Homo sapiens: one gene and its partners. The protein of the gene in region 3 purifies or fractionates together with the protein of the main gene of each other region. This does not show direct contact. Each region holds a gene or a part of one and is shown on either strand. Other genes may lie near its edges. The genes, in order: XPO6, SCAI and RANBP17.

Evidence for each region.
Region 1: the proteins of RANBP17 (region 3) and XPO6 fractionate together in Homo sapiens (co-fractionation; one large-scale study listed by BioGRID). This does not show direct contact.
Region 2: the proteins of RANBP17 (region 3) and SCAI fractionate together in Homo sapiens (co-fractionation; one large-scale study listed by BioGRID). This does not show direct contact.

The regions. Positions count from the first base shown.
Region 1 is NC_000016.10:28,097,476-28,100,873, reverse strand, and holds the end of XPO6 (exportin-6), read left to right. Parts: intron 1-2,234; coding exon 2,235-2,336; 3' UTR 2,337-2,898; downstream 2,899-3,398. UniProt on the Homo sapiens protein: Mediates the nuclear export of actin and profilin-actin complexes in somatic cells.
Region 2 is NC_000009.12:124,947,978-124,951,630, forward strand, and holds part of SCAI (protein SCAI), read right to left. Parts: 3' UTR 1-3,653. UniProt on the Homo sapiens protein: Tumor suppressor which functions to suppress MRTFA-induced SRF transcriptional activity. May function in the RHOA-DIAPH1 signal transduction pathway and regulate cell migration through transcriptional regulation of ITGB1.
Region 3 is NC_000005.10:171,239,453-171,243,105, reverse strand, and holds part of RANBP17 (ran-binding protein 17), read right to left. Parts: intron 2,179-3,653; coding exon 1,964-2,178; intron 425-1,963; coding exon 286-424; intron 1-285. UniProt on the Homo sapiens protein: May function as a nuclear transport receptor.

The DNA of each region.
Region 1 (3,398 bases), on a different chromosome or scaffold from region 3:
CCGTGCAGCACCTCGGTGGGAGCTGGGTGCTGCTGGCTCTTGGTGTCCATGAGGCCATCTTGTTGGAGCCTGACAGTGCCTGGGACCTCCTTCCCCATGGGGCTCACCTGTTCTCTTCTTCCTGTGTCAGGTGACCAGGCCTCTCTCTTGCCTGATAGGAACTTCTGGGAACTTTTCCTTGTACCGTTTTATACTTGATGAAATTAGGAAAAGAAATCGCTTTCTCCCTGGTCCTCTTGGGGTTCTTGACCTGAGTCCTCTGTGAAGCAGCTTGTCCACGGCTCCACCGTAGTGCTCAGATGCACACACTGCTCTCACTGGTGCAAACCTGGCCGCCTGCTTTCCTCATTTGCCACGTGTGGCAGGGAAGCTTTTGCTTAGACTCATCCTGTTCTCCTTTGTCTTGGGGTCTTCCTTTTCTTGGGACTTGTTCTCTCCTAAGCCTCTTCCAGTTCACTTCAGCCCCTGGATATGTTTTTTCCTTTTTCTAGAGGCCAGATCCTAATACTTAATGATCAGCTTCTAACGACATCAATATCAGTCAACTTTTTGATTTAAAGCTGTGGTTTCAAAATCTAGTTATAGGCCAGGCGCGGTGTCTCACACCTGTAATCTCAGCACTTTGGGAGGCCAAGGCGGGCGGATCACTTGAGGTTAGGGGGTTTGAGACCAGCCTGGCCAACATGGCGAAACCCTGTCTCTACTAAAAATAAAAAAAATTAGTCAGGTGTGGTGGCACACGCCTGTAATCCCAGCTGCTTGGGAGGCTGAGGCACAAGAATCTCTTGAACCCGGGAGGCAGAGGTTGCAGTGAGCGGAGGTTGTGCCACTGCACTCCAGCCTGGGCGGCAGAGTGGGACTTTGTCTCAAAAAAAAAAATCTAGTTATATCAGAAGCACCTGGGGTACTTATTAAAAATGGAGAAACAGACTTCTGTGTTCTACCCAGGAAATTCTGGTTTGGCATTTGGGAGCCACTGATTTAAAAGACATCCCTTAGTTGGTTTTTTGAGGGTAAAATAAAAGAATCACCACCTTCCATTCAGTCACGCACTGTGTGTTTGAAGCCAGCTGCTTCTCAAGCCCCGGGCCAGGAACTGGGGCACCAGTCCCAGCCTTCACCAAGTCTTTCATGGTAGACAGGCCAATACAGCACCCTCTGTGGACCACATAGTGCCAAGCATGTGACATGTCTTGGCTCGAGTAAGCCTTCTAACAAGCCTCTGAAGTGTGGGTCCTGTTACTCCCCCATTTCACAGATGGTGGGGGCTCAGAAGGTGAGCAGTTCACAGAACTTGGAAGTGGTAGAGCTGCGAAGCAGGAGGCAGACCTGGGTGTTCTGGCCCCAGAGCCTGCACACACTCCCCAGAAGCAGATTGCTCAGGACAGAGGCGCTGAGCTGGCTGCTGGGGCCAGGAAATAGGAGGCATCTGTGCAGACTTTGGGAAGAGGCAGGCTTTGAATGGAGTTCTGGAAGAGGAATAGTGGTTGGGCAGGAAAATGAACTTGGTCCTGCTCATGGCTCTGCTGGGGCTTGCTGGGCCTGTTTGAGTCCTCACCGGGACCTACACTGAAAAAAAAAGCAGGGTCTCACCGTGTGCATGATGGCGGAGGTCAGGGCCTCACTTCTGGCCCAGGGCCTTCCATGGCCCACGCTGCGCCCAGTGGGACAGGCCTTGGGACTGTGTTTGCTGCTGCTCGGGTGGCTCTCGAGGGGCAGGGGCGGCCTGGAGCCCCGTGGGTAAAGGTTCTGCAGACATTGCTCGGTGTGCGCGTCACCTCAAGGGGCCATGGTGAAGAAGAGGGCTGTCACCACAGCCATGTCTGCGTTTGAGGGGCCGGACTCAGGAGCAAGTGTGCTGGTCTCTTCAGTGTGAGCTGGGGCCAGCTTCTTCATGGTGCAGCGCTTTGGTCTTTCTGTCCTTAGACTAGTGGTTCTGGTAGGGCTTGGTGGCAGCCTTGTGGTGAGGACTCAGTGAGTTGATGTCTGTATGTTGATTGCAGCAGTGTCTGGCACCCGAGAGGCCCTAGGGACGTATTCCTCTTGTTCTTTTTCTCCCACAGCGCCTGGCACAGAGTCTCTGTGACACGCAGTGCAACAGTGAATAGAAGTTTTGAGTTTTAGAAAGTGCTCCCCTATCTTCAGTGCACACTCTGGGATGGAAGTAGCTGTTGGGGTCTGGTGGGTGGGTGACCTGGTGTGTTGTTGGCTGCAGCTATGCCCCTGCCTTCCAGGACCTGCCCTCATTCACCCAGAATGTGCACAGGCTGGTCAACGACCTGCGCTACTACAGACTCTGCAACGACAGCCTGCCCCCTGGCACTGTGAAGCTCTAGGCCTGCTACTGCCTGGGGACACGGACTTCTGCTGCTGCCACCTGCGCCAGCCCTACCTTCCACCACAGATGTCTCCCAGATGGGCCTTGGTCACACTCCTTGGCTTCTCCCACCGCAAGCAACGCTGCCTGCCTCTGCCGCTCCTCCACATCTTGCCGCTGCCCAGCAGAGCTGGCTTCTGGGTCCACCTGAGCACTGGACGGTGCTCCCAGGGCGTTGGAGCAGGCGGAGGGGTGTGTGGCCAGGTACTAGGAGGCACCAGGAAATCCCGCGGGGTGGCCCATGCAGACCAGGCGCACGTGGCTCATGGGGCAGAATTGCCAAGGACAGCTCACGACAGTGCCACCTTCTCACCATTCCAGCCAAGGAGAGATGTGACGTTGGAACTGCTCTGGCACTTCTGTCAAGCCTCCCCCGCCCCAATTGCCTTGAGATCTCTGCTCTTTGTCAGAGATTTGCAAAGACTCACGTTTTTGTTGTTTTCTCATCATTCCATTGTGATACTAAGAAACTAAGAAGCTTAATGAAAAGAAATAAAATGCCTATGTTGTTGTTCTAGAAACCCTGGCTGGGGAGCTGCTTGCTACTCACAGCCTCCTTGAGGCCGGGTTCCCAGCAAGGTGCATCCTGATGGGAATGTGGGCAGTGCGGCTTGGAGTGGGCTGGCTCCTGGCGTCTCCCACCTTCTAATGGCATCTCCCTGACTGCTCTTACTCAGCGAGGGGAGGGGGTCTCACTGACAGTTGGCCAGATGATGGAGGGAGGCTGCAGTCTGGGAGGGGGTCTCACTGATGGTTGGCCTGGTACTGGTGGAGGCTGGAGGCTGGGAGGGGGTGTTGCTGATGGTTGGCCTGGTGGTGGAGGGAGGCTGGAGTCCAGGCTGCCTGACTCCTGTGGCCCCTGTGGCACCCACTCCCCCTGCCCCCCAGGGTGGGAAGTGTGGGCTCCACCTCCCCCACCTGCTAGGGAATAGATTCCTTCCCACGATGTGCAGCAGGACCTGGCCCTCCGTGGCCTGAAGTCTCGCTGGAGGACAGGGAGGTGGGGTCTCATGATGGATTG
Region 2 (3,653 bases), on a different chromosome or scaffold from region 3:
AATAAAATTTTTCAGCTGGGTCCAAACTGCTTCTCAGAGACAGAAAGTTACTATATCACACATGTCAGAGATTAAACTTGGAGGAGAGTGCTAAAGAAAGCTCCATAATACCTAATACATAAATCCGATTTGTCGCTTTTCCCATTATCCTGACTAAATCAGTATAATTACGACATAATCTGTTTCAGGGAATTCTATTGCACAAAGGAAATAAAGGGCAGTAGCCAGAAGTTGGAGGGGAGGGAACCACCCGGATCCTCTATCAGGAAAACTCCAGCCACAATTGGATTGCACTTTGCTTCTGAAATCCTGAAACGTTTCAATTTGGTAAAAATAAAGAGGGTACAATAAATTCTGTGCTTTGAAAGGTTTGAGAGCACCACTTTCTAAGAGAAACACACACATGCAAATGAAGAATACATCCTGGCTAGAATAAAAGATAAAATGTCAGATTTGTGGATTTTTACAATAAAAATTTGATACTGTTTTGTGCCAAAATACAAATCCCTAATTATTCTTTCTTGTTCATTATAGAAAGCAGTCTGAGCTACTGAGAAGACTGGGCTGAGATGAGGAGATCTGAGTTTTAGTTCTAGCTCTATCACTATGAATAGCTTTTTGGGTCTCAGCTTTCTCTTCTGTAAAATAGAGAAGATAGTTGCTTTACCAACTTCAGAAATATACAGATAAAGAAAGAGAAAATTCCACTGTGCTTCATTTTGTTTTGTGTATAACTGACTTCTTGCAGTCTTATGCTTTCTATGTTGTTTACAGTGATAGTTAAGAGAGATGAGAGACTATCAGAATCTCCAGGGACAGTTTGTGCAATTTGAAAACAAAGGAGTGCTTTTTCCCTTTGCTTTGCTCTGTTCTTAGTTCCAATATTTAAATTTTTATGAATTATAAAATTAAATACATTAGGGTTTAAATTTTTTTATAAAGGGCAGGTGGTATGCATTTTTAAAAAATGAAATTCTTTGCCACTATCATCAGCTCAAGCCCATTGGGCAACTGTCCTTTTAGATAATTCTTCTCCCTTGATTAAAGAAATACAGAAGCTGGGTAAGGTACAAGGAGGATTTATTAAACTGTATGTTTAGGCTGGGCGTGGTGGCTCATGCCTGTAATCCCAGCACTTTGGGAGGCCGAGGCCAACGGATCACCTCAAATCAGGAGTTCGAGACCAGCCTGACCAACATGGTGAAACCCCATCTCAAAACACAAAATTAGCTGGGTGTGGTGGCACATGCCTGTAATCCCAGCTACTGGGGAGGCTGAGGCAGGAGAATCACTTGAAACTGGAAGGTGGAGGTTGCAGTGAGCTGAGATCCTGCCACCACACTGCAGCCTGAGTAACAAGAGTGAAACTCCGTCTCAAAAACAAAAAACAAAAAAACTATGTTTAAAACTTTCATAAAAAGAAAGAAAAGGCAAAGTGTTCATGCAAATGTGACCTTCCTAATGAAGCCTACCCTGATCATCACTTTTTCTTTTCTTTTTTTCCAGAGACGAGGTCTTGCTTTGCCATCCAGGCTGGAGTGCAGTGGTGCAATCACAGCTCACTGCAGCCACAAACTCCTGGGCTCAAGTGACCCTCCCACCTCGGCCTCCCAGGTAGCTGGGACTAATAGGGTCATGCCACCATGCCCTGCTTGATCACTCTTTTAAACATTGTTCTTCTCTTAAGAAAACAAACAAAAGATTTACCTTACCATAATCTACACTTTTCCATCCTACTTAACATTTTCTAACATAAATTACTTATGTTTATTGCCTTACTCCTTCTACTAGAATGTAAGCTTCATGAACATGAGGATTTTTAAGTCTATTTTGTTTGCTTCCCCAATGCCCAGAAGAAAATCTGGAGTATAGTCTTTGTTTAATACGCATTTTTTTGAAGGCATCAATGAAACAATAACATTTTCCAGCACAGTTTTCCTCTCTTTGAAGATTCAAGATCACTTCAGTCCACTTTAGATTTTTAACTACCAGTAAGGAATTACACTATTAGCTTAAGGGGCAACATCATAAGGGTCAATGTTGTGATTTCTAAGACCCTCATTTTTAGACAAGCATGTTTCTAATCATAAAAGCTCTAATTTCCTCAGGAGAGTCTCTGTCTGTACTAGTTTCTAAAACAGCTAAGTGGGACCCAGATTTTCTTGAACAAAATCTAGGTAAATATGACTTACAAAAGAAAAGGTTGTGTACACTACAAACAGGGTAAATAGTTCTCTTGGTGGTTGGAGTGGGGAAATCAATATTTTTGGAACCAAGAGTCCAAATTACAGAATCAGAGTTGGAGAAGACCTGGGCCAACCTCTTCATTTTACAGATGAGAGTGCTAACAAGCAGAGACATGAAGACAGTTGTCAAAGGGCATAACGCTTAAGTTACCAGGAAAGCCAGGACTAGAACTTAGGTCTCCTAGTTCTCAGACCAGTGTTCTTTATGCTTAACGGGGGAGGATAAAGCTCAGAACAGTAAATACTATTTTAAACATTAGAGGACAGGAAACTCTGTGTTGGTAGGAGCATAACTGGCACAGGACTTAAGGGGAATTGAAACAAGAGGTCAGAAAACCGAAGATAGTCTATTGCTGTAGTTCAATGAACACTGTTACTAAAGGAAAGCTATGAAGTTTATTAAGATACTGAAAAAAAAGGAAAGCAGTCTTTACCTGAAAATGAAAACCCACTAGCAAAGGAAATCTTTCCAGGGTAACTTTTCCCAAGCTTTCTGAAATACTGTTTGAAAGAACAAACAAAAAAATTTTTAAAAAGTAAACAGGCCAGGTACAGTGGCTCACACCTGTAATCCTAGCACTTTGGGAGGTTGAGGCAGGAGGATCACTTGAGCCCAGGAGTTTGAGGCCAGCCTGCTCAACAAAGTGAGACCATGTCTCTACAAAAAATTAAAAAATAAAGAAAATTAGCCAGGCATGGTGGCGCATGCCTGTAGTCCCAGCTACTTGGGAGGCTGAGGTGAGAAGATTGCCTGAATCCAGGAATTTGAGGCTGCAGTGAGCCATGAATGTACCGCTGCACCCCAACCTGGGCAACAAAGCAAGACTCTGTCTCTTAAAAAAAAAAAAAAAAAAAAGTAAAATACTCCCCAAGTCCCCAAACCCCAAAAACAGTAACTTTGGACTTCAGGTTTGAAAAATCAGCAAATCAAAGCAGGAATGGGAATAACTTAGACCCAAATTAGTCTCTATGCCAGAAATGAAAACCAAGTTAAAAATAATAGCCAGGTGCGGTGGCTCACGCCTGTAATCCCAGCACTTTGGGAGGCTGAGGCAGGCAGATCACAAGGTCAGGAGTTTGAGACCAGCCTGACCAACATGGTGAAACCCCGTCTCTACTAAAAATACAAAAATTAGCCAGGCATGGTGGCGGGCACCTGTAATCCCAGCTACTCGGGAGGCTGAGGCAGGAAAATTGCTTGAACCTGGGAGGCGGAGGTTGCAGTGAGCCGAGATAGCCCCACTGCACTCCAACCTGGGCAACAAAAGCAAGACTCTGTTTCAAAAAAAATAAATAAATTTAGAGTATAATTTACCTAGGGCCATGGGAAAGAGATATCAAAAGCAATCAGCTCACTTCTCCTGGGACTGCCAGATGTGATCCTGTACAGAAAATTAGGTATAAGGC
Region 3 (3,653 bases):
TACATGTACACATTTGTACAAGGACTCACTGAACTATCCACTTAAAGTCACTGAATTTTATTGTATGTAAATTATACCTCAGTAAAGCTGATTAAAACATAACTGACTATGTATCAAAATATGAAGAAATACATTTTTCCCACTTGCAAGTAATAATTATAATCTTTCAGTTTGGGTTCACAATATCTTTTCCCCCTTTGTAGGATGATAGTCTCAATAATCACATACATTAAAAGCCCATAATCAAGTTTTTCCTATGGAAACAATGTCCTCTATGATCCTTACCAAGAGTAGTGAGTCCCTCTGAGATAGATGTGAGAACATACATGAGTACAGGAGGCTCTAAGTTGATGATGAAGCTCATATGGTCCTGAGTGAGACATTCCAGGAGTGGATAATAAGACTGGCTCAGTTTCCGGTATTGCTACAACACAGAGATATACTAAATGTCAAGCCACAGAGAAGAAAAATACATGTTACAGTCCAGTGAAAATTGTCATTTATAATACTGGAAATTGTAAACTTATTTAAACACAAGGTCAATAAATATATAGAGCAAATGACATAATGAGTCCCAATCCAGCATTTAAAGGGGTTCTGATAGGAATCGCTTGATCTCTTTACCTTATATGGTTAGCACTTAAAAGTAAAATCCCTGCAGTACGATATTTAGAAGACTGTGTGAATTATTTTTCTGGATTGGAATACTGTAACACTGAACAGTGCTTAACAGTCGCTAGGAAACCTTTTTTTTGTTGGTTTTTTAAACACAAAGACATTTGCTGTTATAATGGGATTTGGCACCATAGTCTGTTGTATTAATATAATGCTAATCCATCTAACTAAATAATAATTTGGTAAAGGGCTTAATATTTACCATACACTACAGGCAAAAGATAAGTGCATGAGAAAGATACCTGAAAAATCTCAAATGCAATCCAAACCAGTATCAAAGAAACACACTTGTAAGATAAATTAGAGAAGCTGGGCATGGAGGTTCATGCTGGTAATTCCAGCTACTTGGGAGGCTGAGGCAGGAGAATTGCTTAAGCCCAGGAGTCTAAGAACAGGCTGGGCAACACAGCAAGACCCTGCCTCTAAAAAAAAAAAAAGAAAAAAAGAGAAACCAGAGGAGCATTTCTTAAAGTGATGTTAAGACCAACTCAATAGGAATCACTTGGGGTGCTTGTTAAAAACGCAGTTTCCTGATCCCCACTTCAGACTCGCTAAATGACAAGCTCTAGTGTAGGCTCTGAAATGTATATTTTTAACACACGTTAAGAGAGTCTTATGCACCTTCAAGTTGGAGAATTACTGAGTTGAAGGTTTGTTTGACTATTAGAATAAAAAAATTAGAGAAAAATTCTTGGAACCATACCAGTTGTCTTGGTGGACTTTAACTGTAGTGAAGTAACTCTTTGATGAGGTGATTTTAACATATGGCTGATTTGACTCAAGTTTCTACTTTGTAATTTCTGTCTAACAGACATATCCTTCAATGATCATTCCATTCTACTACAAGGAAGTCCTCTCTTTGGCTTGAGATGCAGCCATTCCAAGATTAGTTTATAAAGGTGGAAGATGATGCACTAGTCCACTAGGAGATCAAGAAGCATTTCTTACACAGGTTGACTAACAAAGGCCTTCCAGATTTTACTTGTAACCTTGAGTGGGAGCAGGTGGGAAAGCCTGAACTAAGCCTAAGCATGATTTGGCTATGTTACTCAAGTAATTACTGCTACTACATTGGGCACATATTGGTTTCTATATAATCAGGCAGAGATGCTAAAAAAAAAAAAAAGCCACTATAGTTTTCCAAATTCTGTAAGTTAGATCAAGTATGCTGTCTTAAAACATAAAATGTTCTAGGCTAACTCCCTGGGCTTCATTATAACACTTCCAGGCCTGTGGTGGTGTTACTTCACATTTCATACAAACACTCCCATGATGCATGATTGCTTACTAGCAAGTCACTGTGGGACACTGACAGCAGCATTTTGACAAAAGCCTGGAGTACATTGTCAAAATGGTTGTCCCCATACAACTTGAAGACGCCAAAGCTGACATAATTTCCACACAAGGCAGACTTGAGAGCTGAATAGCAGATGGAGATGCCCTTGAGTTTCATTGGATAAATCTGATCTTTTGAGAGGCTCCCAAGGGACAGGATCTGATTACCTGTTTCAGGATAAAAGCAGAAAGTGACATAAGTAGATGTCATTCAAAGTAGTTATGGGACACACTATTTAACATTTTTACTTTACTGCTAATGTTCACTTCCTCCCAGCATATTTTTAAGAATTTTTTTTTATTCATTGTAATAAAAAATATAAATACATATGGCAGTTTACCTGGAAGTACAAAAGGCCCAAGGAAAAATCAATATCCTTATATTGGAAAAGCTCTATATTTTTATCTGCATGGTGATTACACAGATGTATACATAGATATGTAAAATTTCATTAAGTTGTACTCTTAAGACTATTCATTTTACTCTATGTGTTATCCTGTCAGTAAAAAATTTTAAAAAGTAGGATAAAACTAAGTCAAGAGAAAAAGATAACCTGACTGAGATGTAAATTACCCTAAATTCTCGGCAAATTTTTGACCTTTTATATGAATTTGATCTTGAGTTACTTCATTTTTAGGAGCCTCACAGGTTTGGTATACGAATTCAATGAAATAACACACACAGAAGTTCTTGGTGCAGTGTACAGTAAATATTACTTCCTTTTTCTTCTTAGATCCTTCTTCAGAAGATCTCAAGAGATGATTGTTTTAAAAATTGTACTTAAATTCTGCGTTGACCATCAGAAGACAAAGAAATGTTTGTATGATCACCCTAAAATCTTCTGTAGTACAGTTAGCATTTACAATCAATGATTTCTGTTTCTGAAATGTGTGCTAGTAAGTATGTTACTAGGCAATACTTGATAATGTTTTAAAAAAATATAAAGTAATATATGTTTCTTACCTCTGCTTTTTCCTGGTCAAATGAGTATTGCTTCTAAAATTGAAACTAAATTCAATTTACAAAATTTAGAAGTATAATATAGTGGCTTACACTGTGTCAACTTAGCTAACAAGAATTAAGTTTCTTAGAATCCACTTCCCTTTATGGTTGTGGGCTAGAATTGGCCAAAAGAGACATTTGTGTGAGATTTGGATGCTGGGAGTGGAGTAGCTGCCATGACTTTTTAAAGGTTGCTGTGGTTAGAGGTGGTAAGAGTAACAGGTAGAAATGCTGCTCGGTTTCACTTTGTCCTTGTTCTTCCTTGTCCTGTTTGTGTCTAGAACTACCAGCCCTGCTGACCAATATCTCCAAGCCCACCACCAAACAGGTGGTAGCACACTTACAGAAGCAATAGCTATGCAGACGCAACAGCCTTCTACTGACTTCTATACCATAACACCAGCTACCTTCTCACCCCTAATCCTTTCATAGTTCCACTCTAGCACCTAAATGTGCCTGGTTTCTAGATTTCCCTGCAAATTCCAACTTGTCTATGCCATTATTTCAGGAGGGCTGATCAGTGATATTTTTCCCCTGAACCTCCAACTCCCCACTTTGGCCCTATTTCCCCATCTTTGCCTAAGATTGTATAAGGTCTAATTTCTAAAATAAGTTATCCATTCCAAAAGTATTATCATGC